Linked DNA regions of Homo sapiens. The protein of the gene in region 4 purifies or fractionates together with the protein of the main gene of each other region. This does not show direct contact. Each region holds a gene or a part of one and is shown on either strand. Other genes may lie near its edges.

What was found.
Region 1: the proteins of VPS41 (region 4) and RBM25 purify together in Homo sapiens (affinity purification with mass spectrometry; one large-scale study listed by BioGRID and IntAct). This does not show direct contact.
Region 2: the proteins of VPS41 (region 4) and XRCC4 fractionate together in Homo sapiens (co-fractionation; one large-scale study listed by BioGRID). This does not show direct contact.
Region 3: the proteins of VPS41 (region 4) and VPS33B purify together in Homo sapiens (affinity purification with western blotting; 2 studies listed by BioGRID and IntAct, with this or other methods). This does not show direct contact.
Region 5: the proteins of VPS41 (region 4) and LSG1 purify together in Homo sapiens (co-immunoprecipitation; one large-scale study listed by IntAct). This does not show direct contact.

The regions. Positions count from the first base shown.
Region 1 is NC_000014.9:73,098,633-73,105,224, reverse strand, and holds part of RBM25 (RNA-binding protein 25), read right to left. Parts: intron 5,846-6,592; coding exon 5,792-5,845; intron 5,559-5,791; coding exon 5,475-5,558; intron 2,034-5,474; coding exon 1,747-2,033; intron 1-1,746. UniProt on the Homo sapiens protein: RNA-binding protein that acts as a regulator of alternative pre-mRNA splicing. Involved in apoptotic cell death through the regulation of the apoptotic factor BCL2L1 isoform expression.
Region 2 is NC_000005.10:83,107,301-83,113,892, reverse strand, and holds part of XRCC4 (DNA repair protein XRCC4), read right to left. Parts: intron 2,866-6,592; coding exon 2,690-2,865; intron 1-2,689.
Region 3 is NC_000015.10:91,005,270-91,009,582, forward strand, and holds part of VPS33B (vacuolar protein sorting-associated protein 33B), read right to left. Parts: intron 3,708-4,313; coding exon of another isoform or gene 3,635-3,707; intron 2,696-3,634; coding exon 2,601-2,695; intron 2,305-2,600; coding exon 2,200-2,304; intron 1,778-2,199; coding exon 1,681-1,777; intron 1,461-1,680; coding exon 1,383-1,460; intron 1,177-1,382; coding exon 1,103-1,176; intron 791-1,102; coding exon 704-790; intron 516-703; coding exon 425-515; intron 186-424; coding exon 111-185; intron 13-110; coding exon of another isoform or gene 1-12. UniProt on the Homo sapiens protein: May play a role in vesicle-mediated protein trafficking to lysosomal compartments and in membrane docking/fusion reactions of late endosomes/lysosomes.
Region 4 is NC_000007.14:38,726,798-38,733,389, forward strand, and holds part of VPS41 (vacuolar protein sorting-associated protein 41 homolog), read right to left. Parts: intron 1,995-6,592; coding exon 1,895-1,994; intron 1,790-1,894; coding exon 1,745-1,789; intron 1,638-1,744; exon of another isoform or gene 1,544-1,637; intron 192-1,543; coding exon 112-191; intron 1-111. UniProt on the Homo sapiens protein: Plays a role in vesicle-mediated protein trafficking to lysosomal compartments including the endocytic membrane transport and autophagic pathways. Acts as a component of the HOPS endosomal tethering complex.
Region 5 is NC_000003.12:194,649,771-194,656,362, forward strand, and holds part of LSG1 (large subunit GTPase 1 homolog), read right to left. Parts: intron 3,373-6,592; coding exon 2,959-3,372; intron 1,447-2,958; coding exon 1,345-1,446; intron 1,255-1,344; coding exon 1,111-1,254; intron 1-1,110. UniProt on the Homo sapiens protein: Functions as a GTPase. May act by mediating the release of NMD3 from the 60S ribosomal subunit after export into the cytoplasm during the 60S ribosomal subunit maturation.

The DNA.
Region 1 (6,592 bases), on a different chromosome or scaffold from region 4:
GATGTGGGAAGATCCCATGAGCCCAGGACTTGGAGCTTACAGTGACCTATGACTGTATCACTGCACTCCAGCCCGTCTCCAAAAAAAAAAAAAAAAAAGTAATAAAACCAAACTGCAGATTACATACAGCATGATACCAAGGATCTAATCAAATAACTCTGTGTGTGTGTGTGTGTGTGTGTGTGTATTTAATATGTATATATGAAATATGTTCTTTATGGATACACTTATGCCATAAATATAAGAGATGGATTTTACACATACCAACCTCTCAATGACTGTATCAGGAATGGACAGAATGAAATAATTTTAATGCCTACTGAAGGTTGAGAGCTCTGGGTTTCCAGTTCTAGCAACTAGGTGAAATGACCTAAAGTGGAACTCCCTCCAGCCATAATCAAGTAAGAAACTGCAACACAGTAATGTATATTTTTAAACTAGCCTGAAGAAAAAGGAGCTTTTTCTCTCTTCCTTGCTGCTTTCTCCTCTTCCTTTGTTCATGTTTGCTATACCTCATTATTCAACAGTGAGATGACTCATCAAAATAATTCAATATAAGGCCGGGCATGGTGGCTCACGCCTGTAATCCCAGCACTTTGGGAGGCTGAGGCAGGCAGATTACCTGAGCTCAGGAGTTCGAGACCAGCTGGGCAACATAGCAAAACCTAGACTCTACAAAAAAAATACAAAAATTAGTCCGGGACAGTGGTGTGTGCCTGTAGTCCCAGTTACTCGGGAGGCTGAAGCAGAATTGCTTAAGCCTGGGAGGCAAAGGTTGCAATGAGCCAACACTGTACCACTGCACTCCAACTTGGGCAACAGAGCAAAAACTTGTCTCAGAAAAAAAAAAAAATCAATATAATTAAAAAATTTTAAATAAAAAATAAAACCTTCCAAAGAGTAAAATTACTAGGAGCCAGAGGTAGAGGTAGATAGTAAATTTATAGACAGAAAGATTAAGCTATGGCAGTGCAGTGGGCTACAAAAACAAATAAAAATGCTAGGGGCTAAAAAGACGTGGTGCTAGAGCTGATGTCTCAGTATACAGAACTTCAACAAAAAGAGCAACTTTAAAAATGCCCACGGACCCAAGGAGACAGCAGGGAGTCATGTCTGCCCAGAACATTGAGTGGCCACTGTGTTTCTATAAAAAGTGGCTTCAGACAGAAATTAACCAGAGTTGAAAATTATTACTTTTACCCATAGTGAGAGAGAGAGAGAGAGAGAGAGTGTGTGTGTGTGTGTGTGTGTGTGTGTGTGTGTGTGTGTGTGTGTGAGAGAGAGAGAGAGAGAGAGAGAGAGAGAGAGAGAGAGAGAGACAGACAGACAGACAGACAGACAAAGACCATGTTGTCTCTAAAAAAATTCTCAGGCTGGGCACAGTGACTCACGCTTATAATCCCAGCACTTAGGGAGGCTGAGGCAGGCGGATCACTTGAGGCCAGGAGTTCAAAACCAGGCTGATTAACATGGCAAAACCCCATCTCTACCAAAAATACAAAAAATTAGCTGGGCATGGTGGTATGAACCTGTAATCCCAGCTACTTGGGAGGCTGAGGAATGAGAATCACTTGAACCCAGGAGGCGGAGATTGCTCAGCCACTGCAGTCCAGGCTGAGTGACAGAGTGAGAATGTCTCACACACACACAAAAGTTCTCATTCCATGAATGCAAATGGTACTCTGGAGGACTACCCGATAGTTTTCTTAAAGCTATCAGGAAACAGTAACTTCTGTAAAGCCTTACCTTGATCGACTGCGATCCTTATTACGATCTGAGCTCCTTTCTCTATCCCGGTCACGATCTCTCTCTCGATCCCGATCTCGGTCTCTCTCTTTTGTCCGGTCACGGTCCCTATCCCGTTCTCGTTCCCGCTCCCGTTCTTTCTCCTTTTCTCGTTCACGTTCTCTTTCCCTTTCTCGTTCCCGTTCTCGCCTTTCTCGTTCCCTTTCACGCTCCCTCTCTCTTTCTCTCCGTTCTTTCTCAATTTCCTGTCTTTCTTTTTCCTTTTTGCCTTTCTCTTCTTCCAGTTTCTAGAAACCAATAAAAGCACTTTTAGAGTTAACTCTGTAGCTCCAGTATTCAGATTTTTCCCGGCGCAAAGCCCAGTACTGGGAACAAAAACACCAAACCACTGATACATTAATATTAAATACTTGTGGTTTTATGTGACAAATTAAACTGAAGCAATCACAAGACTAGAAAGATTTCGTGCAAAACCATATACTCTACACAGACCAGGAATCTCCAATCTTGGATGCTGGGAGATTGTGTCAGGTGTGGCTGGCCACTCAATGACTATGTACTAACTAAAATGACCATGAAGAATGTGGTGGTTCGAAATATTTTCTATGAATACGATCATTGGTTAAAACTCAACTCTGTGCATTATAGATTTCTGTAAATCCACAAGATTATTAATACTAATTAAAACCCCAGACTGCACATTACCTCAAGTTGAGGGTTTCAAAGGGCAAGTGGTATAGAAGAATACCTATAATGCAACTAAATAATCTCTGCCCTCTGATTTGCCCACCCTCCAAAAGAAACACAAGCTGAATTCAGCCAAGAACTGCCTTATCATCTATGGAAACATTTACTCCCACCATTACAAGATGGACAGCCCACCAAATACAAAAAGTTTGAAAATCACTCACTTCAAGCAAAATATATGTAACTGTAATAGTTTAATTTAAAATATTTAAAAGCAACATACTTATGCCCATTATGCCTGTAAGACAATGAAAATATATTTACAATGATAAATCCATCCTTGGAAGGAACGATTGTGCATTAACTTACAGATGCTGTGCTAGGACATGGATCGCCAACACTGGATTAACCTTGCCTACAAGCTATGTTTCTGGGAGGAAGAGCAAGTACATGGTTCACAAATAAACCAAATAACAAAGTCAGACCAAGTTTGTACCCTGACAAGATTACCAGTGTACCACACGGTTTCTACACAAACTCAGAAAAAAATACCCCAAACAGGTAAAACAAAACAAAACAAAACACATTTATCCCTTTTGTTTCACGTTTAGTTTCACCAAAATGAAATTTTAAACTGCAACAATAAAATGTGCATTTTTCTTTTCTCAGTCATGTAATGCATTTAAAACAACTTTAAAAAGCAATCTTACCTGTCAGATACTCTTTTTCTCTTCCTCATGGATCAGAGAACTTATAGCAGGTTATGAAAGGAAAGCTAATGTATGAGCAATATATTCAGTTGCTGTGCCAGTCTATATCGAAGTAGAATACGGGCAAAGTCAAAACTGAATACATTGAAATTACAAAGGGATGAAATAAGATATGATAGAAAGAGGACAGAAACTAACAGCTATTAAAGGGGGAAAAATCTCATTTCTGAAACAGTTCCAATGAATATAAAAATTTATATTGTAAAATGAGGCTAGACTATATAAAACTTACCTCAATGGCATACACTTATAAAGAAATTTGTTTATTTCTGAAATAGATACTTACAGAATATTTTAGCTGTTCCAATACTAATTTTTCCTGTAGAATTCCTCAATTTTTAATTCTTGCTTATTTCACTGTGCTCCTTATATTCAGTTATATAAATAACCATTTGTTTCAGAACTCATTTCAAAAGTTTGGTTCTAAGTAAATGAAAAAGTGAGTGAATCTAGTCCATACTAAATGTTTCCTGAAGTTTATATATGAGATATATATATATATATATATACACACATGTATACAAATACAGGTATACATGTAAACATACATGTATATTTTTAAAGAAAGACTGGAGAAGGGAAATGAGGTGAGTCTAAAATTATGTAAGAAAGTCATGAAGAGGAAAGGACAGATTAAAAAATCATAAATCTTACCTTATTCTCTCTTCAGACTCATCCGTGCTGTAAATGGACGCCCCCTGCCACGCTGATACCCTGACAGTCTGTGGTTATTTAATAAACTCATACCAAAACATGCAAAGGTTCACTGAGCTCATTTTTTGTTACTGGAGTTTCAAACAACCCTTTTAGCCAAACCACCCAATAAAAAACAACTGTTTTGGTTTTTCATTTTGATTTCTTTTTATTTTGAAAAGACATTCTGAAAATTCAAAACATTCCCTCCAGTGAAATAATACTAAGGCAGTAAAATGCCTAACAGATTCCCAAACTTTAAAGCAAATATATTTTTGAATTTTTCTTAAAACATGATTTCCTCATAATTTACCAATAACATGACAGGGTTTAACAAATAAATAAAAACAAAAAGGGGGTAAACCACACACACAACCATATACCATTTTTAAGCTTACTCGGTCCTGAATTTCAGTATTATACCTAACCAAAATTATTCATCTAAAATGATTTCCCATAGACCACCTTTTCAACTCTCAAAATTAATTTTGGGAGAATTATGTTTGTGCTCTTAGACACATTTAATTCTTGAAAAAGCATTGTGTTTGTGAGCAAGGGCTGGGCATCTGGATAGTAAGTGTTCAGCAGCACTGATTCATTGGCATTATTTGTGAACTGCAGATTTTGAAAGCAATGGGAAAAAGTAAGAATAAAAGAGAAAATGAACATTTAACATTTCACTGAGTTAAAGATCTCTCAGTCTATCAGTAAGAACCAGCAACACCTTATTATCTCGACCATCAAAATACATTTCATGCAGTGTTTGCATTGCACCGTTCAAAAGCATCATTTTCAACACCAGCGAACATTCACAGATGCACTGTCATTGAGAGAAGCTTCAAATAGGCAAAACTCGTGAGTGGGATTTACTATGCATAAATACCCATTTCCAAGCCAGTTACCCCTTTGCATATTTTTCTGAGGGGGCATCCATAAATATAATAAAAAACAGAAGCTCATACTTACATCCTATTCCTTGTTACTTTCCAAGCTGAGAGTTTCATCTTGCATTAGTCACCATATGATCTCTATCATAATGGTGGGGGTCAATGAATAGATTAGCTTTATGGGAATTTACAGTTCTTCCATGCATCTAAAATTTGGTAAGTCTGGTAACCACTGACCTACTGTTTAAAATCTCCCCCACTCAACTTAAATCTATACAAATATAAAATGTAAATTTTAATCTCAGCTCTAAAGAAAAGGTATTCCTAAGATCAAGTTAAATAACTGCCCCCAGAAATACACTACAGTGTATGTTATCCTGCTGCCCCCTGAATCTAATTTAAGTCTGACCTTGATGTTTATGTTGAAATCTAAAAATAAAATTAGCTTCTATTCATATTAAAGTGAGATGACTGCAGAATAGTCAGTAACTGAAAAAACTAAGCACAACATGTCAAGGACCACTTTAATATGGTATTGGTCTTCTGTTTCTTTTTTCTATCTAAATATCAATTAAACCTATAAAAAACATTTAAAATTATATTCTAATTTAAGGTTGATTTTTTTTGTCTCTTTGCTTTGGATTCTGTAAAAAGTCTAGATTGGTATCAAGTGAAAAGACAAGAATACTACCTTATGTGTGTCTCTGAATTTGCTGATCTCTCGAGATATCAGGTCTCTTTTGTCTTCTTCCATTTCTATAGCATTTATATCCTCCTAAAAGAAAACGGGCACAGGAGGGAATGAATAAAGAACACCCTACTTCAATATAAACAGTTAAAGGTTAGATATTCTGTATAGGTCTCAAAGAGTAAATAAGTAAACAGAATATCCACAATAACAAATCTAACAATCTAAAGTTAAATAGTGAAAAATCAGATAGACAAGAATGACAAATCAACAATCAGCAGTAAACACAGGTATTGTCAAAGCCTACAATTTAAACTAACCTTAGTGATGAGTGGATAAGGGATCAGTGGGGCCACTGGAAATCTGCGGAAAATCTGTGAAAAAATCCACCAAGAATCTTTTTTAAAAAAGAAAAACAGAGCTCATACTAATCTGCAAAGCAATGCCCTATACATTTATGACGTGAACAATACAGTACACTTCTGTGATGCTTTCTTGATTTCAAATTACTTGGGAATAGAAGTGATTTCACTCTTTTTACAATAACTGATCACACACTACCCTCCTCTCTGGATACTCCAACACCCCCAAGAAATGGAAATATAGAAGGTGCTCTCATAGTAGCAGGGCTTTCTAATCATACCAACAATATTTACCCATAACTCCTGCCACAGAGGAAGAATTTATTATCTCCTCCCAATCCACATCAAACAAATATGTTATTTTTCTCCTTTCCCACTAATGAAGAAAGAGGAAGAATGAATTCTACAGGCCTCAATTACCCTGTACCTTACTGACCCTACCAATTACCATTCCTAACAGAATACACCTCCTTAGAAAAGTTATGGGTCGGGCACGGTGGCTCACGCGGATCACGAGGTCAGCAGATCGAGACCATCCTGGCTAACACAGTGAAACCCATCTCTATTAAAAATACAAAAAAGTAGCTGGGCGTGGCAGCAGGCACGTGTAGTCCCAGCTACTCAGGAGGCTGAGGCAGGAGAATCGCTTGAACCCGGGAGGCAGAGCTTGCAGTGAGCTGAGATCGCAGCTGCTGCACTCCAGCCTGGGCAAGTGAGTGAGACTCCGTCTTGGGTGGGGGTAGGGGCGGGAACAAAAAA
Region 2 (6,592 bases), on a different chromosome or scaffold from region 4:
GCACTTTGGGGGGCTGAGGCGGGCGGATCACGAGGTCAGGAGATTGAGACCATCTTGGCTAACATGGTGAAACCCCGTCTCTACTAAAAATACAAAAAATTAGCTGGGCATGGTGGCGGACGCCTATAGTCCCAGCTACCTGGGAGGCTGAGGCAGGAGAATGGCATGAACCCAGGAGGCGGAGCTTGCAGTGAGTGGAGATGGAGATCACGCCATTGCACTCCAACCTGGGTGACACAGCGAGACTCCGTCTCAAAAAAAAAAAAAAAGAAAGAAATGTTTGGATGTCCAGGCAGAAGTTTGCTGCAGGGGCAGGGCCCTCATGAAGAACCTCTGCTAGGGCAGTATAGAAGGGAAATGTGGGGTTGGAGCCCCTATACAGAGTCCCCACTGGGGCACTGCCTAGTGAAGCTATAAGATTAGGGCCACTTTCCTGCAGACCCCAGAATGGTAGATCCACCGACAGCTTGCACTGTGCCCCTGGGAAAGCCACAGACACTCAATGCCAGCCCATGAAAGCAGCCAGGAAGGGAGCTGTACCCTGCAAAGCCACAGGGGTGGAGCTGCTCAAGGTTGTGGGAGTCCGCCTCTTGCATTAGCATCACCTGGATGTGAGATATGGAGTCAAAGGAGATCATTTTGGAACTTTAAGGTTTCATGACTGCCCTATTGGATTTCGAACTTGCATGGCGCCTGTAGCCTCTTTGTTTTGGCCAATTTCTCCCATTTGAAATGGGTATGTTTACCCAATGCCTGTACCCTCATTGTATCTGGGAAGTAACTAACTTGTTTATGATTTTACAAGCTCATAGGTAGAAGGAACTTGCCTTGTCTCAGATGAGACTTTGGACTGTGGACTTGTGAGTTAATGCTGAAATGAGTTAAGACTCTGGGGGACTCTTGGGAAGGAATGATTGGTTTTGAAATGTGAGGACATGAGATTTGGGAGGGGCTGGGCGGAATGATATGGTTTGGCTGTGTCTCCACCCAAATCTCATCTTCAATTGTAGTTCTCATAATTCCCAAGTGTTATGAGAGGGACCCAGCGGGAGGTAACTGAATCCTGAATGAGGGGTCTTTCCTGTGTTGTTCTCATGATAGTGAATAAGTCTCATGAGATCTAATGATTTTATAAAGGGGAGTTCCCCTGCACATGTTCTTTTGCCTGCCACCATGTAAGATGTGACTTTGCTCCTCTTTTGCTTTCCACCATGATTGTGAGGCCTCCCCAGCCATATGGAACTGTGAGTCAATTAAATCTTTTTCCTTTATAAATTACCCAGCCTTGGGTATGTCTTTATTAGCAGTGTGAGAACAGATTAATATACATGCCAACTGTACCAAGCCCCGTCTTTTAGCATGTCAAAAATTTCAAAAGCCTTTCAGCCTTCTAAAATGTACCTCACTAATTTGGAATTTATTATGTATCAATATGTGTGAAACAGATAAAAACTAGAAAATCGCTGCACAAAATAATGCTAGTTGTTACATGCAAATGTTTAGTGAATGGGAAATGGCATTAATCCCAATTTGGCAATGATCTGCTTCAAAACATTAGAAGAGTCTGCACTTCTGTAACATATAATATCATCCGATTGAGCTTGGGCCACAGGAAAGAACACTTACAATAAATAACAAAATTGTAGTAGCTAGTTCCAACCTTCTTACTGAACCTATTTTAAATTACCATTTTAAGAAATTCAGCATATTGAAACTTATATAAATTGGCAGCTAATTAGAAAAAGTATGTTTATTTTAAATATAAATTACTAAGGGTAGTTTCTCTGCATTATTCCCTACACGATAATATAAATTTATAATGACTCCATTTGTTTCTACAAATGTTTATCTAATTAATGAAATCTCTTTAATTATTCCAAATTTAAAAGGTTGATTTAAAAGAATTTCCTAAACTCAGTTGAGCACTAAAACAAATTCTCAATACATTTCTGTTAACTTAATGTAGCAAACATTTCCTTCCCTCTCCTTCAGAAATGATAGATCTCATATATGACTGAAAACCACTGGTTAAAAAAACAAATTCAGTATCTATTAAACTTAGGTAAAATATACAAATAATTAGTGCCAGACTTTAATAAATAAACCACCTGCCTTGATCTGAATTGGTGCAGGAACTGAGCAGAATAAGTAGCAGATACTCTTGTTTGCAAAGCTTAGGCTTCAAGTTATTTCTATTTTAATATTTTTAAATCTGACAATATAAAGTATCCTTAATACTTACTATGCATTTTTCAATTTCAAATATACTCTAGTAAAGTAGAAAATAAGTCATAATTATTCTATATTCAAAGATATATTTTGATTGATTTTATTTCTTAAAATCAATATTTCACAAAACTTTTTTCAATAAGACCTGTCACGATGGCCTAAAACTTCTGATCTCACCTTTTTCAAGATTATTCTTTTGTATAATTAACTCTGTAATACTTTAAAATTTTTCAAGCATTAAAAACTAAACACATTTTCCAATATTTATTTTTCATGATTCATTAATATATTTAATGACTTTAGCTTTGAAGTATTCTTCTAATTTGGAAACCAAGTACTTTTCAAGCTTTTGCTTCTGAGGTGTTCTGGGAATAATATAGTAGTCACTTAAATTTAAATATAATTCCTCAATAAATGCTCTGACATTTTACTATGTAACATTTTGGAAAGTTTTACTTACTGAGACATCTTTCAGGTTTTTCTCAAAGAAGAAATAACAAGACTCTTTAGAAAAATTAAACGTGTATACATCAGCTGGTCCTGCTCCTGACAACAATGCTTTTCTCAGTTCACCAACATATTTCCCTTTTTCCATTGCCATGTCATCAGCTTCTTGGGAAATCTCTGATTCAGAAACTATGGGAAATATTAACAAAAGTTTTAAAATGAAAAGTAAATGACTACACATGAGAAAATATTAGTTTATCTGTTAGTACTAATTTATCACATGTAACAGAAATTCAAACAAGTAAAATCAATCCCTATACTACACATTTTTAAATCAAATTATTCCTTTTTACTGAACTAGCAATTTTTGAGAAATGCATTAATTTAGACTCACATCTCGTAAAATACATTAAACCCTTGACATTCTTTCTCTGTCTTCAGATGAAACGCATTGTAAATTATTACAGAAACTCCCACTTTGTGTAACTGCTCTTAGGTCAAAGCCAGATAATTTCCTACAATGAATAATAAGTTCAGTATTTTATAACATCTTTCTTCCTTGCATCAAAGATTCAATAGCCTATACTGTGTTTCTCACTCATATGGGCAGAGTAAAACAAAAGCAAAAGTGGAGCTCACTATTCTCATATCATGTGCCAACAACAGAAAATATGGATGAAAGGAGATGATAAGGAAATAATAGGAAGGAAACTAAAATGTACGAGCATCTCCTCTGCAACACATACTATACTAGAGACCGCTTCCAATTCTCTTATCTAGGTATTTTTAAAGCTGATGTTTTACTATCATTGAGATTTTTGTTTCAATAATTATATTTTCAATTCTAGATATTATCTTTGTTCCTTTGTCATTATATCCTGTTCTTATCCTACCCTTCTTTTAAATATTTAAATAAACGTATTTTAAGATCTCTTTCATTTCTGTATTTATGTGTGGCTCCTGGGGTATAAATTATGTTTCTTCTATCTGTGGAAAAATTCTTGTTTTACTTGTTTTCCTTTCATGCTTTGTAACATTTGAGTACAGCTCACCTCTAGCCAAAGTGGCAAGTGCTCTGGGAAGAAGTGGTCTTAAATGAAGGTTGCCTTTCTGGGGGTCATTACAAGTTTTATCAGTTTGGGACTAGTTTTGAAAGTTAATTTCTCACCTCGATTTTTACATTTGAGGCAAAGTGTTCCATTTTAAACCTCCCATCCACACATAACACAGGTTTAGGGTTCTGATTTTTCTTGAGACTTTTATTCACTCATAGTCCTTAGGGATTGTTCTGTTTTTATGCTGCATCCTCTGGACAGAGAGTAGTAGTTTTTTTAAAAGATTATTTTATTAACAGCATATATTTTCCAGGTTCCTTTCTTTATGCTGAGAGCTCAACTCCAATTCCCTAAGAGGTCTGAAGCCTCAACATTCTACCTCACTCAAACATTATACTCACTGTCATCTAGAAGTATATCTAGTTCAGATATTCCATGAATCTACAAGTAAGCTTTAATTCTCATCAATTACTTTGGTTTTGAAATACCTCTTCAAACATGGTGTCTGAGGTTTTCCCTTTCTTACACTCAAAAGTGGCAATGGGTCTGCATACTTGTTTGTTTTTAAAATTACAAGATTCAATCTCGTTATTTGTTGGAATGTGTGTGTGGTTGGATGGTTTCCTGTGTTAATTTAGGCTATCACAGTAATGATAAAAGTCTCATATGGTTGTATAATTTCATACTTATGCATTACACTTATCTATTTTAATTCCTTATAAAACTGAAAAACAGATATTATTTTCATTTTGCAAAAGAGAAAACTGAGGCTCACAGAGATCAAGTAATGGTCTAGGGTGATGAAGTAAGTAACTAGTGAAGCTGGGATTAATACTCATATCTCTCTGCATGTTTTATTTTGAGGTGAAGCAGAGACATGAAACATTGGATAAATTATTTCCATCCATAATTTTGAAAAACAACATTAGTATAAAATATTACAGAATATAAGGAAATCATGATTAAAGAATCCCTAAAATGGAACACACATTTTCATACCTTTGGTCTCTATGCTATCAAGTGTCTGGAAGACCCATGACAGTTAATGAAAAAGGGAGTCTTGCAAGGTACCAATATTTTTATATGATCAATTTTTGATAACAAGTTTTGATAATAAAATATGATTCTCATACGTCACACAACCTTTGGAAGGAGGTAAGAATAAAAATAGCTTATATTCATATATTAACAGCTTCTAAAACACTTTCACATTTTCTCTATTGGAAGTGGACACATTTAATATGATCATCACTATCAAACCTATTGATCTTTCAAATGCCCTAGTAGCTCTTCTAAAAAAAAAAAAAGAAGAAGATAAATGCTTCCTATTTAAGGAATAATTTCATATTTTGTGTTTGCATTATGTTAAAAAGTAACTATCTAACTTTAACTCACCAATACCTAGGAAGAACAGTTATTTCACAGAGAAATAGGAAATAAATTTGTAGATGCCATCTTTAATGCGGCCATAGAAAAACTTGAAGAAAACACAAAAGAAAACAGAGAACATCTATTTAAAAAGCATCTAGTTAAAAGTATTCTAAATTTCATTAAAATGAAAAGATACCTGTCTGAAAATATGTAATCATTCATTCATTCCAAAAATGCTAGCCTGTGGAGCTCAAATTCAAGTGCTAATATCTTAGACAACATTTTAGATATCTGTCAGTTATCATCCTAGATATCCTCTTATTTTCCTCTCCTAATAAATACTGTGCTGATTATTACGGAATATTTAATTTTTGAAGGAGAAAAAAACGTATGAAAGGAAATTAATTATGTAAAACAGCTATTTGTTCAAAAATGTACTTGAAAAATTCCTATAAAAGTAAACATGGAAATCTGACTGCCTACATAGGGCTTCAATCCTAAAAAACCAACCTGGTCACCAGTTTTGAATTCTGTGCCAAGAACATCTGGAAAAAGTATAGCTGTAAGCACGCGATGCTCTAAAACTTCAGTGACCAAGAATAAAGGCAATGGAAATAATAAAATTCAGCAAGAATGCAACTGAACCACATAATAAGGCATAAAACATGAGCAGCCCAACATGACCAAAAAACAAGGAACTGGTAGAAGTCAGACTGAGACTCACTTTAACACTGAAAAGCATCACTTTTGCAGTGTTTATAGGTAGATGAAGATGTAAGTGAGGAAAGAAGATTTTTTTCCTTCAGATACCTATATATAACTAGCCAAAAGCCTGCACACATCCTAAGCTTGTACTGGAGCTCAGAAGACATACAGTCTTATCATACCATTAGGATTCTAGTTGGTATTGCATCATAAACCCATTTCACTGCTTGATTTATTAAAATCCTCTTTCCACTGAGTTCTGTCACTATTTCCATATAAGTCAAAAAATATTTACACTCAAGATAATTATAAGTGGATCTAATTAGTGGATAATAGAACAATTAGTAAAGTTTAATTTACTCTTTAATAAACTTCAAACTACTCCAGAGATGGGTGATATAAGTTTCCTACTGCCAATAGGAATTCTTATGAAAGTCAGAGTCATCGATCATTAACCCACTTTGTGACTTACCCCTGTGATATAACCGCCTGTAATACTGATGTGATGATAGACCACATGATAATTAGATAATTGGACCTCAAAAACATTCATTAGATAAAACATTGCTAATGGAAATCAGTGAGTTTAGTGTAGGGGAGATTAAAAGAAAACTTACATCCTTTTAATTTCACTCAAATAAAAAGAGAAAAAAAATTGTCCAAATTGAAGGTTGCAGTAATCAAAATGTTGAACAAAAAAAAACAGGATGAGGTATCGGAAGGAAATCCGTTTCCATGTTTCAATTATTTAATTGTTTCAATGTCCTTAGTGATGTTATTGTCTA
Region 3 (4,313 bases), on a different chromosome or scaffold from region 4:
AGCCAGTGTCAGCTGGAAAGAGCCAGAGAACATCTTTTAAGGGTGGGACGGGGCTGGGAGCTGGGGAAGTAGAAGCGTGGGCAGTAGCACAGCAAGGCTGCGGCAGTTACCATGCTCAGTCTTGATTAGCTCCTGGAAATCCTGCTTGGTTTTCTTCTTCATGATGGATTCACAGGCCCCAATATCTGCAGGTTGGACAAAGGGAGCTGACATACTCCTGGTTCTAGAAAGATGTCCCTTTATTGTCCGGAAGAATAAAAAACCTCCTAAGGCAAAATCCGAAAGCACTTCTTCCCACTTTACACCAAGTAAGACCATATGCATCAGATGAACAGGGATCTCCTCCTCGGGAGTAATGGTCCTCTGGAGCTTTCCCCAGAGGGACACAGTCACTTCCCCTCACGCCCCTCAAGCTGAAACCTACGGAGACTCAGCAGGCGGTGCTCCTGTTTCAGGCCCTTGAGCTCCTGGGACACGAAATTCTTCATCTGCTTAATGTCCATGCCTCTCCGGCGCTGTGGGAAAATTCCCAAAGGTGAACCCCCCAACCTCAGACACGAGAAACCACCACCCTCCCTCAGTTGCCATCCATCCATGAGAAAGGACAGGGAACCTGTCATAGTATTAGAAGGGGAGCCCAAGGGCAGCAGCCTTGGGAAGCCACTGAGGCAACAAAACAGAGGAGCAGGGCTTGGAGCCTCACATCATACTGGGCCTGCAAGTTCCGGGCCTTCTGGCTCAAGAAGCCAAAGACATTGGAGAAGTGCTCGTTCCGAATCTCATTAAACACCTGTGAGGACAGTAAGACAAGAACAGCTTACTCTGTCAGAACCATAACTTAGCAGTAGAATGACAGTACAGGAAGGGTACTCAGGTGTTCTGGCAGAAATACAAAGAAAGCTGAGCTGGGATCTGTAAGTCCATATCAAATGCCTACACCGTGTTCTAGGAGATGCTCTGAACTGGTGGGGAAACCCTCTCTCCCATAGACTCAGCCTCCCCTCTCAGAGCTGGGGCCCACAGCCTGGTATAAGCAGGGGGCCCACAGCCTGGTATAAGCAGTGGCCCTAGGTGGGCCCATTGCTAGCACCCACACCCTCACCTTGTCCTCGGCATTGAGTAGCACCTTCAGGCTCTTGTCAGAGGATGTGACTTCTGGGCCAAAGTCGACACTCCCTTTGAGAGCAGAGGGACAGCTATTAGGATCTCCAATGAGGACTTCTCCTACCATTCCCTGAACTGCCATAAAGGTCCTCAAACTATTTGGAAGCCAGCAGTTCATTCAGGGTCTGGGTCTCTCCCACAAACCCTGCCCCACGTGGGAGGTGCCAAGGCTGATGACCCGTCCATCTTGCCAAGATGCAGAGGACCATAGCACTTACCACACTTGATGCGGAAGGTGTCATCTACTAGGCCCTCATAAACCACTTGGGAGCAAAGTGCTGTCACAAAGTCCACATCTGAAACAGAGATCCCTGACCATGAAGGTTCTCCCTGACCCAGCCTTCTACACAGCATGTCCAAGGGCAGCTTTGATACTTTCCATAGGGCCAAGGACCCACGCTCCTCAAAGCTGGGATTCACAGCCCTAACTTTAGGATTTTAACTTTGCCACCACGCCTTCCATATTCCCGTGTCTTCTAGGGCTGAAAGATGACAGGAACGCTGGGCATAATTTACCTCTGTCCAAGAGAAAGATATGTCCAATCTCTGGCCTTCGGCCCTTGGTTTCGCCATCCTCCTCCTCCTCCAGGTTCCTCCACAATTCATATGCCATCTGCCAGGGCCCAAGACATTCTCAGTCTTGTGTCCAGGTCCCTACTGCAGCCCCATACCTACAGAAGTCAGCCCTTTCCACGTGATACTTCCTCTTGTCCCCGAGACAGGAGCTAATTATTCACAATATGGCCCTATCTACTCCCGTCTGTGTCTATCTTTCCCCAACACTCTTCCTACTGATGAGAAGATGTGTTACTCTGTCCCCAAAATAAAAAGAGATTTAGGAATGCTACCCAGGAGATCCTGGCTTTTGCTTCTCTGTTAGCCACACAAGTTCTCCTCTCTGAGGATCTATTCCAGAACAATGAAAGCAAAGTAAAGAATACACCTCATATCACAGGTGCCCTTGGATAACCCCAGGAGGGTACAGAACAGGGAAAACAGCGTCTGCTGGGACAACAGTACTGCTAGTGCTCTTACCTTGGCGCACCTGCCAATTCCATAGCAGTTTGGAAAGGGTCCATAGAGAGTGCTGAGAAGGTGTAAGGCCTGAGCTACAGTGTTGATCCAACGCTGATCTCCTTCCTGCAGGGACCACACAAGCCACAAAGATATGAATCAACCCAGTAGGACCACCTGGAAAGTGGCTAGCCCTAGAAGCCCTGGAGCAGGGTGGCAGGGCCTGGGGGATGCTTGAAAGGTTTTCATTGGCTCCACAGGAAGTCCCACAGAGACCAATCTGTAGCACTCAATCACCACATCACTATCACTTGTGATAAATTACTTGCGTTGGACAAAGGTTATATTGGTATTTCTAGCCCTCTGCATCCCACATTTGTCCCCATCCCCTGATGCCAAGACACAAGGGCCTCTGCATTTACCAGAAAGTAATCCCTGAAAAATTCTGGTAGTTCCATGCTCAGCAGATCCACATCAAGAGGCAGCAAAGAGAAGGCCCATTCATCACAGCTCACATCTGTGGGGACAGAGAGCATCAGCCTCCCTGCAGAAGGTACTTAGCTCCACGTTAAGAGGGAAGGTCCGCCACAAATATTTGAGTGCGTGCAACAAATATATGAGTGCCTGCCACATGCCAGTACTGCATTAAGCAATGGAGGCTCAAAGAAGAATAAGACACAGTCCCTGCCCTTAAGGAGCTCACAGTCTGATAAGGAAAGGAGATGTGTCCACAGCAGCCTGTAATACAATGTGATAAGTGGTGGGTTTTTACTAGAGGGCTGACCAAAAGTGCCGAGAAAACATTCATTCATTCATTATTTATTTATTTATTTAGAGATGGAGTTTAGCAATTTTCATCCAGGCTGGAGTGCAATGGTGCAGTCTCGGCTCACTGCAACCTCCGCCTCCTGGGTTCAAGCAATTCTCCTGCCTCAGCCTCCCAAGTAGCTGGGATTACAGGTGCACGCCACCATGCCCAGCTAATTTTTGTATTTTTGGCAGAGACGGGGTTTTGCCATGTTGGCCAGGCTTGTCTCAAACTTCTGACCTCTGGTGATCTGCCTGCCTTGGCCTCTCAAAGTGCTGGGATTACAGGTGTGAGCCACCACGCCCAGCTCACTCATTCATTATTCAGCATATATTTACTGAAAGCTGCCTACATGTAGGACTGTATGAACACCAGAGATACAGCAGTGAGCAAAATGGACATGCTCCCAACCTTCTGGAGCTTACAGTCTAGTGAGGGAGACACACCAGACAAATTATGACACAAACTATTAAATCACGGTTGTGCTCCAAAGAGGTCAAACAGCAAGCTGTGAGCACATATATTAAAGGGATGTAACCACAACTGGGGGTATAGGAAAGACTTCCCTCAAGAAGAGAAAATCAAGCTTAGAATTTGGGTAAGACTCGGGAAGGCAAAAAGCTATAGGGTGGAGAACGTTCTGGGTACCTGGAAAAGCATGGGTAAAGTCTCTCTGGCTGGAGGGTGGCGAGTCAGGAGAAGGAAGCAGCACACGATGAGGCTAATGGGACAGGAGGGGCCAGACTGTGCAAGGGATAGGAGGCATGTTGGGGATTCTGGGCTTTATATTGAGCCGCTGCTATTTCCAGCAGGGAGGGCTGTGATCAGGTTTGGGTTGTGTGGAGAATAGCGGAGGAATACACAGAGGGGAGGCCCAGTTTTTCCTGTGGGAGCCTTGGAAGGTGAGAAAAGAGTGGCTGGTCATTTCCAACTCTAAGCCCTGGTGTTCCTTTCATACTACCCCAGGAGTGTTCTTTTCTTATCCTTTCTTTTCCCTCCCTCCCTCTCTCTCTTTCTCTCTTTTCTTTTATTTTCTTTCTCTCTCTCTTTCTTTCTTCCTTCCTTCCTTTCTCTGAGTCTCACTCTTGTTGCCCAGGCTGGAGTGCAATGGCGTGATCTCGGCTCACTGCAACCTCTGCCTCCCGGGTTCAAGCAATTCTTCTGCCTCAGCCTCCCGAGTAGCTGGGATTACAAGCGTGCGCCATCACGCCCAGCTAATTATTGTATTTTTAGTAGAGATGGGGTTTCACCATGTTGCCCAGGCTGGACTCAAACTCCTGACCTCAGGTGATCCACCCCCTCGGCCTCCCAAAGTGCTGGGATTACA
Region 4 (6,592 bases):
AATTTTTTTTTAACCCATACAGCCATAAGGATGAAGGGTTACAGTTTAAAGCACATTCCTCTAAGTGTGTTAATTTCCCTCTAGTTGATAGGTGCCAAGCTGCCAACTCACCATGCTGGGCATGGGCAGGCACTCCTTGTGGAACATGTGCCGGCAATGGAAGACCACCACGCTGAAGGGCTTAGCTGCATCTGGCGAGGAGGGCAGAGAAAGGAGGAGAACTTAATGCAACAAGCAAGATCATTTTAAACCAATCCCGACTGAAAGTCGAGTTGCAGTTTAATTTTCAGCAATAAGGTGCCTTTAGAGAATGGCTTATTTACAAAAGCATTCCTGAGGGGTGGTATGATCAGACACAAAACAGGTATTATAATCATGTTGCTATGCGATTCACAGGTTACTTGCTTAGCCTCTGTGTCACTTACCCAGACTACATTGAGGACAACTGTAGGAAAACCAGCAAGTGTATGTGCCAATGCGCCCCTAACCCCTATAATCATTATACACCACAGCTGAAGTTGAGTCTGTGGCTTCATAAAAATGCTTTGCCAGTCCACCTGCTACCTTTGCCAAGACCACACACTGACTCAGAGGCGGACCTGGGTTACAAGCCCAGGCTGTGGTGACCTTGCATTTTACTGCACTTGTGCTTGGGCAGATCCCCTCATCTGTTCCTGCTCTGTGTGGCCAGCTTATTTTTGGTAAGATTTAGTGTCATCAGCAGAGTAAATTTGGAGTTAAATCTAACTGTAGAGTGGGAATGTATGTGGTTCCTTTTTGCTGCAACACTGTCTGAAATGCTATGGAAGCTCACTTCTTCACCTGAGCCCATGCAGTTTTCAACAGAAGCACTTAAACATCCAAATCTAATTCCTCTAGAAAAGAACCTAAGTAGAACAACTTCTCATGGACTGCCCCATGAAATAATCCTTTAATCCTAAGTAAACATGAGGTCAACTAGGTCTTTTAGTACTTTGTTATGCTGAACTTATATTTGAAAAGCATTTGTTAGCATCCTAACAATGCTTTGTTAGTTTCCGCTTTTGAATTATGCAAATTTCTTCTGTCATAATAAACCTTAAGAAGGTGCTTTTCATTACAGATGAAGACATATATCTATCTGCCAAGAACTAGAAATAAACAAATGCTTATGTCTTTTAAAGACTCACAGTTCCAATTAGATGGCAGGGATTATGTATGTTTCCACTGAAATGTGAGATGACTTGGGCATGTAGAACCATATATCAGAGAAAAACACTAAAGAAAAGGGAATGCTACCTATAAATTTTTTTTCCCAGACATGTATATGGTTCTTCTACCTTGAAATTTAAATGCTGATGGTTAGTTTTCATTTTGTTTTTACCCTAGACTAGCAGTTCTAAAAGAAGGGCCCCTGAACCAGTGGCATCAACATTACCTGGGAACTTGTTAGAAATATACATTCTCAGTTCCTGCCCTGGAAGTTTGGAACCAGAGACTCTAGGGAGTCTGACTGGGTCAGCGATCTGGGTTCCAATAAGCCTGCCAGGTGACGATGACTCACCCTAGAGCTTGAGAACCTCAGCTCTAAGCAATGGCAGCACCAGCATTCCACTGAGCAGGATGGAAGCCACAACACTTCTCTCCACTGGGTTATTCTGAAAGTTATATAGTTTTATAAACGGTAGTTGGCTAATTCCAAAATTTTGATTCCACTCATCATTAAAATACATGTTTGGGATTTTTTTGGGGAAAACCTTCTTACCTGATGGAAGAATAGGGGAAAGGCACGACTCACAGATGTTCTCCTCTGTAAGAAAACACACATACTTTGGATTATGCCCTGTTTATACCTGCTTGGCCATTTCTGAAAGCAGGGCACGTGGTTCCATATGATTATTTCAATTTTACCCACCATCAACAAGAACACCTTTCATTTGAGTTCGGTGCATTTTCTTCAGTAAGGACAAAGAGTCAGCTACGAGAATCTTCTTGCAGCCTTCACGAAGCAGAATCTAATGCATACATTTTAAAAGAAAAGCCATCTTAAGTAGACTCAAATCTGAGGGGTGAAGGGACACTGTACTGGGGATTCCAAAAGCTGGCATGCTTGAAATACTCAAAAGGGGCACTCACTGATTCTCTTGCCCTCAGTACCCTCTTCCTGCCAAACCACTGCCAGGCTGACCTGGCCAGCCAGGATCCACTCATTACTCTGTGCGTCATTTCATCATTTCTTCCAACCATACACGGGCTCCTGTAGCATTTGTATAATCAAACATAAATTCCAAAGTCTGGCAAAGAAGGCCCTATATTAACTAACCCTATTGCTACTTTAGAGGGCTTCCTTATACAGATCCTCTTGGGCAGACTTTGGCTCCTACATCATGTGTTCATTCCATTCTTCAGATCTTTACCCAGAATGAAAACCTGCTATTCCAAAATCATCAATTTATTTCATAAATTAATCTATTTACTGCACAAATAAGTACTGGGTCCCTATCACGTATAGGGTACTGGGTATAGATAATAAACTAAACAGATACAATCTCTGTCTTAAATCCCCTTGAGGATGCAACCTATCTTTTTCTTTCCAAATCTAATCCAAACCATTCAGCATAGTGCTATGAATGTGGTGTGTGTGTGTGTGTGGTATTAACTGACTATAATAACCTTCAAATTTGGTGACTCCTGGGAGGGGTTTGAAAAATGACCATGAATACAAATATTCTCTCATAAGAGTCCTTTTCTTTATTCTTCATCCCAGCATTATAGCTTTTGTTTCTTTACACATTTTTCTTATTCCCCTGCAGGCTTTTTACTATTTCCTCCCTTCCTGCCTGGAGAATGACAAGAGACATCACAATGCTTTGGCAGCCTCAGAAGTCAGAAGCACACAGTGGAGGATGATGCCCATTTCTGGCTGGTACCAATGTTGTATTTCAGAACTGGAGGCACGATGGGGTCCAAGATCCTCCCCTGCTTTTAGGTGGGGACACAGCAGGGACAGGCGACACTTTACCTTTCATGTCCATTCTGTGGGGCACAGTGTGAGCTCCCACCCTTTGCTGGGTTTTCTTAGGTATTAGTAGGAAACTGAGAGGCTCCAGGAGGTGTGCATAAGCCAGATGTCATTTCATTTATTATTATTATTTTTTTTTAACCAGAACTTGTTGCTGCTTTTTCAGAGGGAGAAACTCAAGGCCTGAAGGACAGAGACGCTCTGGGGCTGTGCCTGTGGCTTCTCCCTTTGGGCCCTATGTGTCTTATCATACGCAGTTATGTGCAGTTACACATGTCACATCATAGAAGTTCACATTAACAGACAGCGCTGTCTCACCACAGCCCAGCTCTGAGGCTGAGAAGCATGTGTCTTTCACGGGCAAGTGCCACTGTTTAGAGGGGGCACTTTGGCTTTCTTCATACTGAAGTCACTCTCGACTTGACAAGCTAGATGGGCATTTTGCTTTCATAAGTTTTAAATTCATGCCACTGGGGAAGAAAAGTAAGGGAGCAGCCAACTGCAGCCCTCTATCCTCAGTGGTCCACGTGTTCCTCTGAAAATCCCAAAGAGCACTGGCTTTGGGTGAATCCAGCCGAAAGCCTTTTTCCCCTAATTATACAAAGACAAATTAATATTCAGGAAAACAAAACTAATGTCTAGATTAAAGTTCTATGCCTGCCATTTCTAGTATTGATGAACAGGAAATTACATGATTTTAGTATTCCTACATTAATTGAGAAACTGCCTATGAAGTTTTATTCTTTAAAATTCTACCAGGAATCAATTTTTTTTGGATTTTTAAAAAAATACATTAAAATTTTAACAGACTGCATTAAAACATACAGGTAGAAGAGAAAAATAACAAATACAGTAAGAAAGATAGCTAAGAAATATGGATGTCAGGAAACTTTAAATAAATTTAAAAGCAAACATATAAAGCTGCTTAGCCTCCAAGACAAAAATAAAAAACTTAAGAGTAATGGTTTCAACCACAACATCTCAGATAAAACAATTTTAAAAAATGGCTCTGACTCTCGTGGGTGCTCCAGGCCCATGGCATGAATTATATAAGAGAAAGGCAGGGCCAGCAGTCTAGACAGAGGCCACTGTGTCTACAAGCTAAAAAAGAAAACAGCAAAATATGCAAACCAGGAAGGAGCCATATCCTCAGCAGGATTACATTTTTCTAAACAGGTACAATCTGTCCGCCTGCAGATAGCATTTTCTAGGAAAATTCATTATTCAGAGGCAAACAGCCAGGAGAGGGGAAAGTACACAAATACAGCTTACTGCTATCTCCTACTTCATTTGGTCAAAATTCAAGGCTCCCAATCAGAAAAACAGGAAAACATTTTAAGTTTCATTTATATGATCCCAGGCAGGTATTTCAAAATATGAGACTATCCTCTATAGAATGTAATCATTTATTCTATAACATCTGTAATAATGTGTAGGCAATTAAAGGTGATAAGTGAAGGAAGACAGTACAAGATTATAATGTACTACAATCTACAGGTATTGCTTTCAACATCAGACATAGGACAAGGCATTATGTTGACTATGGATTCCTAGTAGCAACTCCATCAGTGACTCATGAAAAATGTGCTGTTGTTCACATTCATTTCACCCTCAAAAATTCATACTTGCAATTTCCCATGAGTGTCTTTTTTATAAAGACACTGATGGCCAAAAGTCAGATGCCACAGCAGTTGGCGTAAGCAGGTCATCCTCACCTCTTTTTGACCTTCACACTCATGATTTTGGATGACTGCTATGTTTCAAGGTCATCTTACCCAGCCTATCTTCGCAACCACAGACTATCATCACCTTCCCCATCTCCCTTCTAACTTGCAAATGTGATGTTCTTTACATACTTAGGGCACATGCACACTCTTCTGTTACTCAGGTTTCGATGACCAGAATGGCACTGAGCACTGCTGCTCTTGATCTGAGCACTATCTTTCATTATTTTGTGCTATTTTTCTTTTTAAAATATGAAATATTAAAAAAAAACTGAAAACAAAAAAAGACCCAGTCCCTACCACCTAGATTTAACAAATCTGTTGATATTTTCCCACGTGCTTCAGATCTCATTCCAGAAAATAAAGTATTACAGACACAGCTGACACTTTCTTGCCCTCTACCATTCCTGCTCCTTCTTTTCAAACACAACTCCAACTTCATTTAGTGTGTGTCCAGCTGAAATATACAGCTGGCTGGGGCTCATGTAACATAGATCTGGTCAACAAGATAAACATCAAGCCTGGGAAAGCAGCCCTTTCAAATCAAAAAGCAAAGCCTCATTAGGAAAAAACCCCTTGCTTCCCGCATGTGCCATATGAAGTGTGGATGTAAAGCCTAGTGATACGGCATCTACTTTGTCACCAAGAGGCAACAACCCTGAGGTACACTCTCCTGTTAATGCATGCTGAGGTTATGTCCAGTTTAGGGCTACTAAGGAAATCCAAAGGACATTCTTGTACAGATCTTTTTATGGAACTGATTTTCATCTCTTGAGTAAATACCTAGGAGTGAAATTCCTGGGTCATGGAGTAGGTGTATGTTTAATTTTTCAAGTAAATGACAAACAGTTTTCCAAAGTGGTTATATAGCATTTTATACTCCCACATATTAAGTTGGATATCTAATAAAAATATCTTCCCTCTTGAATAATAATCTTACTCTTAATTTTTATGTTAAGAGTTAGGACCAGTTTATTAATTTCCATGAAAAATTCTTTGGATATTTTGATTAAAATTTTATTGAACATACAGATGATTATTTTAGGGAGAACTAATAACATTTATGATATGGATGTACTTTTAACAATTAAATAAATGGTCAAGTTCAATTTGCTATTGATTTATGTATTATTTTTGCATTTGTGTTTTTAAAAAAAAGATAGGGCTATAATTTTCTCATACTGCCCTCACGTAATGCTGGTATTAGGGTTACACTAGCATTCCATAAGGAACTGAGGAACTTTTCCATTCAATTATCTGGAAAAGTAAATGTAACACAGAAGCTGCTTTTTATTTAGTTTTATTATTTTTAATTAATTTTTTTTGACAAGGTCTTGCTCTGCCACCCAGGCTGAAGTACAGTAGCATGATCAGAACTCACTGCAGCCTTGACCTCCTGCACTTAAGTGATCCTCCTGCCTCAGCCTCCCATGTAGCTGGGACCACAGGCATGAGCCATCACGCCCAGCTAATTTATGTATTTTTAGTACAGACAGGTTTTCACCATGTTGCTCAGGCTTATCTCAAACTGCTGAGCTCAAGCCATCCGTTCACCTCAGCCTCCCAAAGTGACGAGATTACAGGCATGAACCACCGTATCCAGCCAGCTATTTTTTAAAAGGATAAAACTTGTCTCTAAAACTGTCTATGGAATAAGTGCCTTTATTGTAGCTATACATTTTGACTACCAATGTAATTTAGTTAATGATTATAGGTCTATTCTATTTGCTTGAGTAAACTTTTACAACTTATTATTTTCCTAGAAAATTGTACAGTTCTTCTGAGTTTTCGAAGATATTGATATAAACTCGTATTCTTTGTTTATTTCAGGTGTTGAAAACTTAGTCTGCAAGGACTTTGTTTTTTA
Region 5 (6,592 bases), on a different chromosome or scaffold from region 4:
GAATTTTACTCTACTTACAAGCCAGCGGATTAGTGTGCCAATTTCATGAAGTCTCCTATTTTCTGCTAGTATCTACAAAACAATAATAGACTAACTTATTAGCTTATAAGTAGAGTAAAATCTCAGACCTTGCAGTTTTTTTTTTCTTTCATTTTCTTTTTTCTTAAAGGCAAGAGTCTCGCTTTGTGGCCCAGGCTGGAGGGCAGTGGCACCATCTCAGCTCACTGCAACCTCCGCCTCCCAGGTTCAAGAGATTATCGTGCCTCAGCCTCCCGAGTAGCTGGGACTACAGGTGTGCACCACCACGCCCAGCTAATTTTTGTATTTTTAGTAGAGACAGGGTTTCGCCATGTTGGCCAGGCTGGTCTCAAAACCTGGCCTTAAGTGATCCGCCTGCCACAGCCTCCCAAAGTGTTGGGGTTACAGGCATGAACCACCACACCTGGCCCCTGCATAGTTCTTAACAAATCCATCTTTGAGTCTTTTTTCCATGCTGGGCACTGTCCTAGATGCTTTATGTAAGTTAATTCATTATGCTGCTGAGAGGTAGCAGAGTTCCTAATTTACTGCTTACTAGCTATAAGAGCTTAGATAAATTATTTAACTTCTCTGTGCCTCAGTTTCCTCAAGTTTGAGGAAATGGGAATAACAGCAGTATCTGCCTTAAGCGTTGCTTTTTGAGGACTAAAAGGTATTTGGTAAGGGTTTAGAAAAGCACATAGCAAGTATTCAATATATGTTAGCTATACTGATTAAATATAATCAACCGTGAGATAGATTTTCCCCCACTTAGAGAAAAGGAAAGTATTTGGGAAGGTTAAGCAAGTTTTCCAAGGTCATTCAAACGGTTACATGGCATTGTTAAATAGGTTTGCAACTTGGAACTGAGTATCTGAAACCTGGATTCTCCCATTTCTTCAAGGCTACACTGCTGAAATCAGGAAATGAGGTTCTATTCTGAAGTTCTCATGCTATCTCACAGTATAAACTTGTGCAGATCACTAGTATTTTCAATTCTTCATCAAATCTGAATCCCTCAAATGCCCAAAATAAACCTGAAGCCCTAATATGCACGTAATAACTAGAGTGTTTCCAAAGCAGAAAGGATATTAGTGATACAGGAGGAACATGATCTCTCATCTGATCAATTGGGAGGATTCCGCTGCAAGTCATTTCTGCCTTGGTAGACACAAAAGATGGCATCACCAAGCCAGGACAGTCACACAGGCAGAGGCCAGGCTCCACATAGAGAGTCTGGAAGACAAGCAAGAGGTTTGAGCTGGGTATACAACAGATAAAAGGAAGAAAGAGCTGCATGCAAGTGGCAAAGCACCACAGAAATACCTGAAAGTGCTTTGTGTGACCAGGTGTGGCAGACACAGATACTTTCTTGTTGCCCATGATGGTGTTGATTGTTGAACTCTTACCAACATTAGGGTAGCCCACCTAGAAGAGACTCAGAAGTTACCAAACAGTAAAACAGTACATCTATCAAAAGACTCAAAGATATGACATAGATGGTGGCAAGACTAGCATAAGCATCTGGTTACTTTAGAAAATTATTTGAAATCCATGCTGTGTTTGTTGAGACATCTTTTTTCTCCTGTGGTGTGGGTATATTTATTCAGACACATCTCCAGTGACAAATGGCCAAGTTATGCACATTTTAATATTATATGTTTTGCTGTTAACAGCAGATGCTACAGAAAATTTCATCCCCTTGTTCCCAGCCTTCCCTCACTGCCCCATCTACAGACAGTGGTTTCCATCGCATCTTCCACACTGGGTGAGGCTGATCGGATGGACATTTGAATAATCACAACACACAATTATTTTTAATTTTCAGTCACGTTTTAGTTAAAGCCAAGTGGAATGTCTGGCATGTGGCAGGTGATCAATAAGTGTCTGCAGAATTTCTAGAGTAAGAAATTCAGAAAATGAGGGAGGATGCTCAGTTTTTCCATAAATGTGAGAAAACTTGTAGAGAAGCTGAACTTTCTGATACAAATTTTTAGCAACAATATAGAGAATGAAGCTTTAAAGCTCAGAGACATTAAGCAACTTTCCCCGTGTTCCTAACAAGTTAGTTCTACTGCTGAATTGGGAATTACACCTAGGTCTGTCTGATTCCACAGACAGCTCTTTTAACTACTGCACTAAAATAAGATGCTAATCTACTGTAGTCATTTTAAACAGGCATTTTGGGGCAGGGGGTTGGGGCAGAGAGAAGGGGGCTCAAAACTAACTAGGATTAGCTACACTTAGCATGTAACTGAAAAGCTGGGAGACTTTAAACATGCCATGACCTCCTTTCCCTCACTGTTATATTCTGGATAGGTCTTTATAATCAATACCTTCTCTAACATCTCACATCTCCTTAGCTAAGGATGGGGCCATCTAGAGCCATGTCGTAGCCCCTCGGGGTTTGCGCACTTCCGCAGCCACTTCTGGAATTAGGGTATGTAAGGCTGGGGATGGGATCTGCTTTCCCCTATCTACTATGCAGTGTTTATGCAACTAATGCATTTGTCATATTTCGTCCAGCCCCAAGATGCTGGGATTCTCCCTATTAAGCATCTGGAACATTTACAGCATAAGCTGGCAAGGATCACAGGGTGCCCAAAGAACACTGGGCTGAAGTCTGAAGACAACATTAACATCTCTCTCATTCTGCTGTCTTGGTACTTCACACGGCAGGAAAAGCTGAACTGAAAGGAGACTGGAGAATACATTCAATGTGAATAGGTATGTTACCAACACAGGCCTTGAGGAAGTTGATTCCTTTGAGTTGGGCTCTGTCTATCCCACTGCCTAATCCCGTGATGCCAGTGGGCAACAAGAGGGCAATGTTCCCTACGATGCCGGAAGCCTGGTTGGTCTTTGGGGTCGTGCAGCTACTGAAAAATGGGGATTAAAGACAATCACGTGGTAACAATGTTATGACATATGTCATCTTACCAGTCCGACCGTAAGTTGCCCATCTTTCACCTTTCTCCCAGTGTGTAGCTCCTTAAAGAGCTCCAGTAACTCCTGCTTGGATACCAGATGGCTAAAATTGTGTATCTGCCTCTTCTGTGGGGTTTTCCTGCTCCGAGCCTCAGAATCTGCAGTAGAGCTTTCCTTCCAGTCCTGGCTGCAGTCCTCTTCCTTGGGACCGTCTTCTTCTGAGCACGTCTGCCAGTCGTCTTCCTCCTCCTCTGGACAGTCCTCATACTCACTGTCATCTTCATCCGTTGTGGGATTTTCACTAAGTGAAGGAGAATCCCTAGCTGGGAGATGTTCGGATTCACTGTGGGAAATTTCAGCCTGGTCGAAACTGGAATGTCCAAACTTGGTTGTGTTGCTTTGTCTATCATCTCTGTTTGCCTCTTCCTGACAAAATAATAGAAACGCTCAGAAGTATATAACTGCAGTTTCCACTCTAGTAAAAATACTTAATGAGTTGTAAGATGGACAGAGGATGGCTGGGCGTGGTGGCTCAAGCCTGTAATCCCAGCACTTTGGGAGGCCAAGGTGCGCAGATCATTTGAGGTCAGGAGTTTGAGACCACGCTGACCAACATGGTGAAACCCCGCCTCTACTAAAAATACAAAAATTAGCCAGGCGTGGTGGTGCACACCTGTAATCCCAGCTACTTGGGAGGCTGAAGCAGGAGAACTGCTTGAACCTGAGAGGCGGAGGGTGCAGTGAGCCGAGATGGTGCCACTGCACTCCAGTCTGGGCAACAGACAAGGCTCTGTCTCACAAAAAAAAAAAAAAGATGAACAGGGGACAAGCAAAGTTCGACGGAGATGGAAAGGTGAACACAGGGAGGAGACAACGAAAGCCTTTCAGTTCAGTGCCGTGACAGACAACCATCGAGGGTGGCGCCCTCCTGGAGGGGAGAATTGGACCTTCCCTTCACTTTTTACTTTATATGTTTCTGTACTATTTGAACTCTGTACAAAGAACATGTATTACTTTTGTAATTTAAAATAACTCTAGGCCGGGTGCTACGGCTCACGCCTGTAATCCCAGCGCTTGGGTGGCGGAGGTGGGAGGATCGCTCAAGGCCAGGAATTCAAAACCAGTCTGGGCAACACAGCAAGACTGGGTGTCTACAAAAACAAACAGAAAACCACCACCACAACAACAACAACAAAACTCTTCAAAGACAGCAAGGGGAAAAGCTTATGTTAAACTGAACTCTTGACAGTACGTTATTTTGCAATGGGCTGCATGATAAAACAAAGCATTTCTCAGGAACAACAACACATTTAACATACTCCTCTCTGCACAAAGCAAGGGCAGACTTTGCCATTTGCAGTTCATTTTACATTTGTATTTTTAAAGACGGTGGTTGGCATGTTTAAAGAAATCTGCTCTTCTCTCATAATTGCTTTTAGAAGTCAAAGCACCATGGAGCACACACAGATCCCTGTGTGTGAAATGTGGCAGCAAAACTCAACTCCACATGTGGAAATTATTTACTGATGAAAGATTCCCTTTGGAAAGTGAAAGGTACAAATCATTTTCTACTCAAGGGTGTGTTAATTCTTCTGAATCCCTCTTGACAACAAAGCAGAAATAAGGGTGAATTTGTCGGGACTTGAAAGTGATGGAAACCTGGTATCATTTCCAAGTAGCTTTGTTAGAATGATTAACAGTCACAGAAGGGGACACGATGAACTCAAACATGTATCCTAAATCTTAAGAAAGCAGAAATAAAAACAAAATGTCAGGAAAAATAGGTATGATTTAACAATCAAGCCTGGCAACTCAAAAAGAACCCTGGCTTATGAGAGAAATATAGAACTGGAAGCAATTTCTATGGTAAATGAGCAGCGAAGGTAAAGAAGTCAGTGTCGTCACTGTGGGCTCTTTTGAGTCATTTTCAAATATGAAAGTAGCATAAAAACAAGAATGTGAACTGAACATGAATGTGTAGTAGAAAAACTACAGCGGGGAGCAGTTCAGCTTCAGGAAAAGTACTAAAGACAATCAAAGGACTTTGCCGTAATTATGTTAAAAATTAAAAGAAAGAAGGAAAAAGTCAAGCTTTCGGGGAACACAGTGCACTTTCAAGGTGACCAAAGGAAACCAGAGATACTCAACTCAGAATTGGCCTGTGTCTTTTGAAAAATGTCACATTTTTTCAGAACATTCACGTTTTTCAAACAACTGAAGTTGAACAACTATAGAAGATGACCCAAACTTCCAGGCAAGAAAACAGTGAATATCAGGCTACTTCTAATACATTCATGTTTGATACCCAAATTACAGATATTAGTATCAAGTTACAAGTAAGACTTCACAACCTGAGAAATCATGGAAAACAGCAGAGTCCAGAAAACTTGGGAGAAGCAAATGGCGCCTCACTCTTAAAAAGGAGGAAAGAATATCTTCCATAAACTATACACTGTTAATCCAGACACTGACATTAAAACAATTCTACAGGTGACCTGGTGAGCCCTAAAAATAAGACAGTCATCAACAGGAGGCAGTGAGTTCCCTGAAAACTGATCATGCAAAAAATTTCATTTCCCTTTGTTATCTTGGTTAGTAAATCAAGAAGGCCACAGATGCAGAAACTAATCTCTTCCATTTTTGATAGGGTTATTGCATCAGGGCAGAGCAATATAATGATAAGTATCTATTTTAAAACTTCACCAAGACATTGACTTCCAGGAAAGACTGGAAACAATAGAAATAATGGTTTAACAGGGCAAACTATTCTTCTGCCTAAGAATGGTAAGTATCTATACTTACTGCCGAGAAGACTAAATGAGTAAAATATGTAAAGTGTTTAGAATAGTGGTGTCTGGTAAAGAATATGTTTTTATTAACTGATTAATTTTATGGGTTAGTTTTAATTATAGTAATAATTATTATTGGTATATTCTTGTGAATATATCTATATTCACATAAAAACGCTTGGCATAAGTCAATCCTAAGCCAAAAGAACAAAGCTGGAGGCATCACGCTACCTGACTTCAAACTATACTACAAGGCTACAGTAACCAAAACAGCATGGTACTGGTACCAAAACAGAGATATAGACCAATGGAACAGAACAGAGCCCTCAGAAATAATGCCACACATCTACAATTATCTGATCTTTGACAAACCTGACAAAAACAAGCAATGGGGAAAGGATTCCCTATTTAATATATGGTGCTGGGAAAACTGGCTAGCCATATGTAGAAAGCTGAAACTGGATCCCTCCCTTACACCTTACACAAAAATTAATTCACGATGGATTAAAGACTTACATGTTAGACCTAAAACCATAAAAACCCTAGAAGAAAACCTAGGCAATACCATTCAGGACACAGGCATGGGCAAGGACTTCATGTCTAAAACACCAAAAGCAATGGCAACAAAAGCCAAAATTGACAAATGGGATCTAATTAAACTAAAGAGCTTCTGCACAGCAAAAGAAACCACCATCAGAGTGAACAGGCAACCTACAGAATGGGAGAAAATTTTTGCAACCTACTCATCTGACAAAGGGCTAATATCCAGAATCTACAAAGAACTCCAACAAATTTACAAGAAAAAAACAACCCCATCAAAAAGCGGGTGAAGGATATGAACAGACACTTCTCAAAAG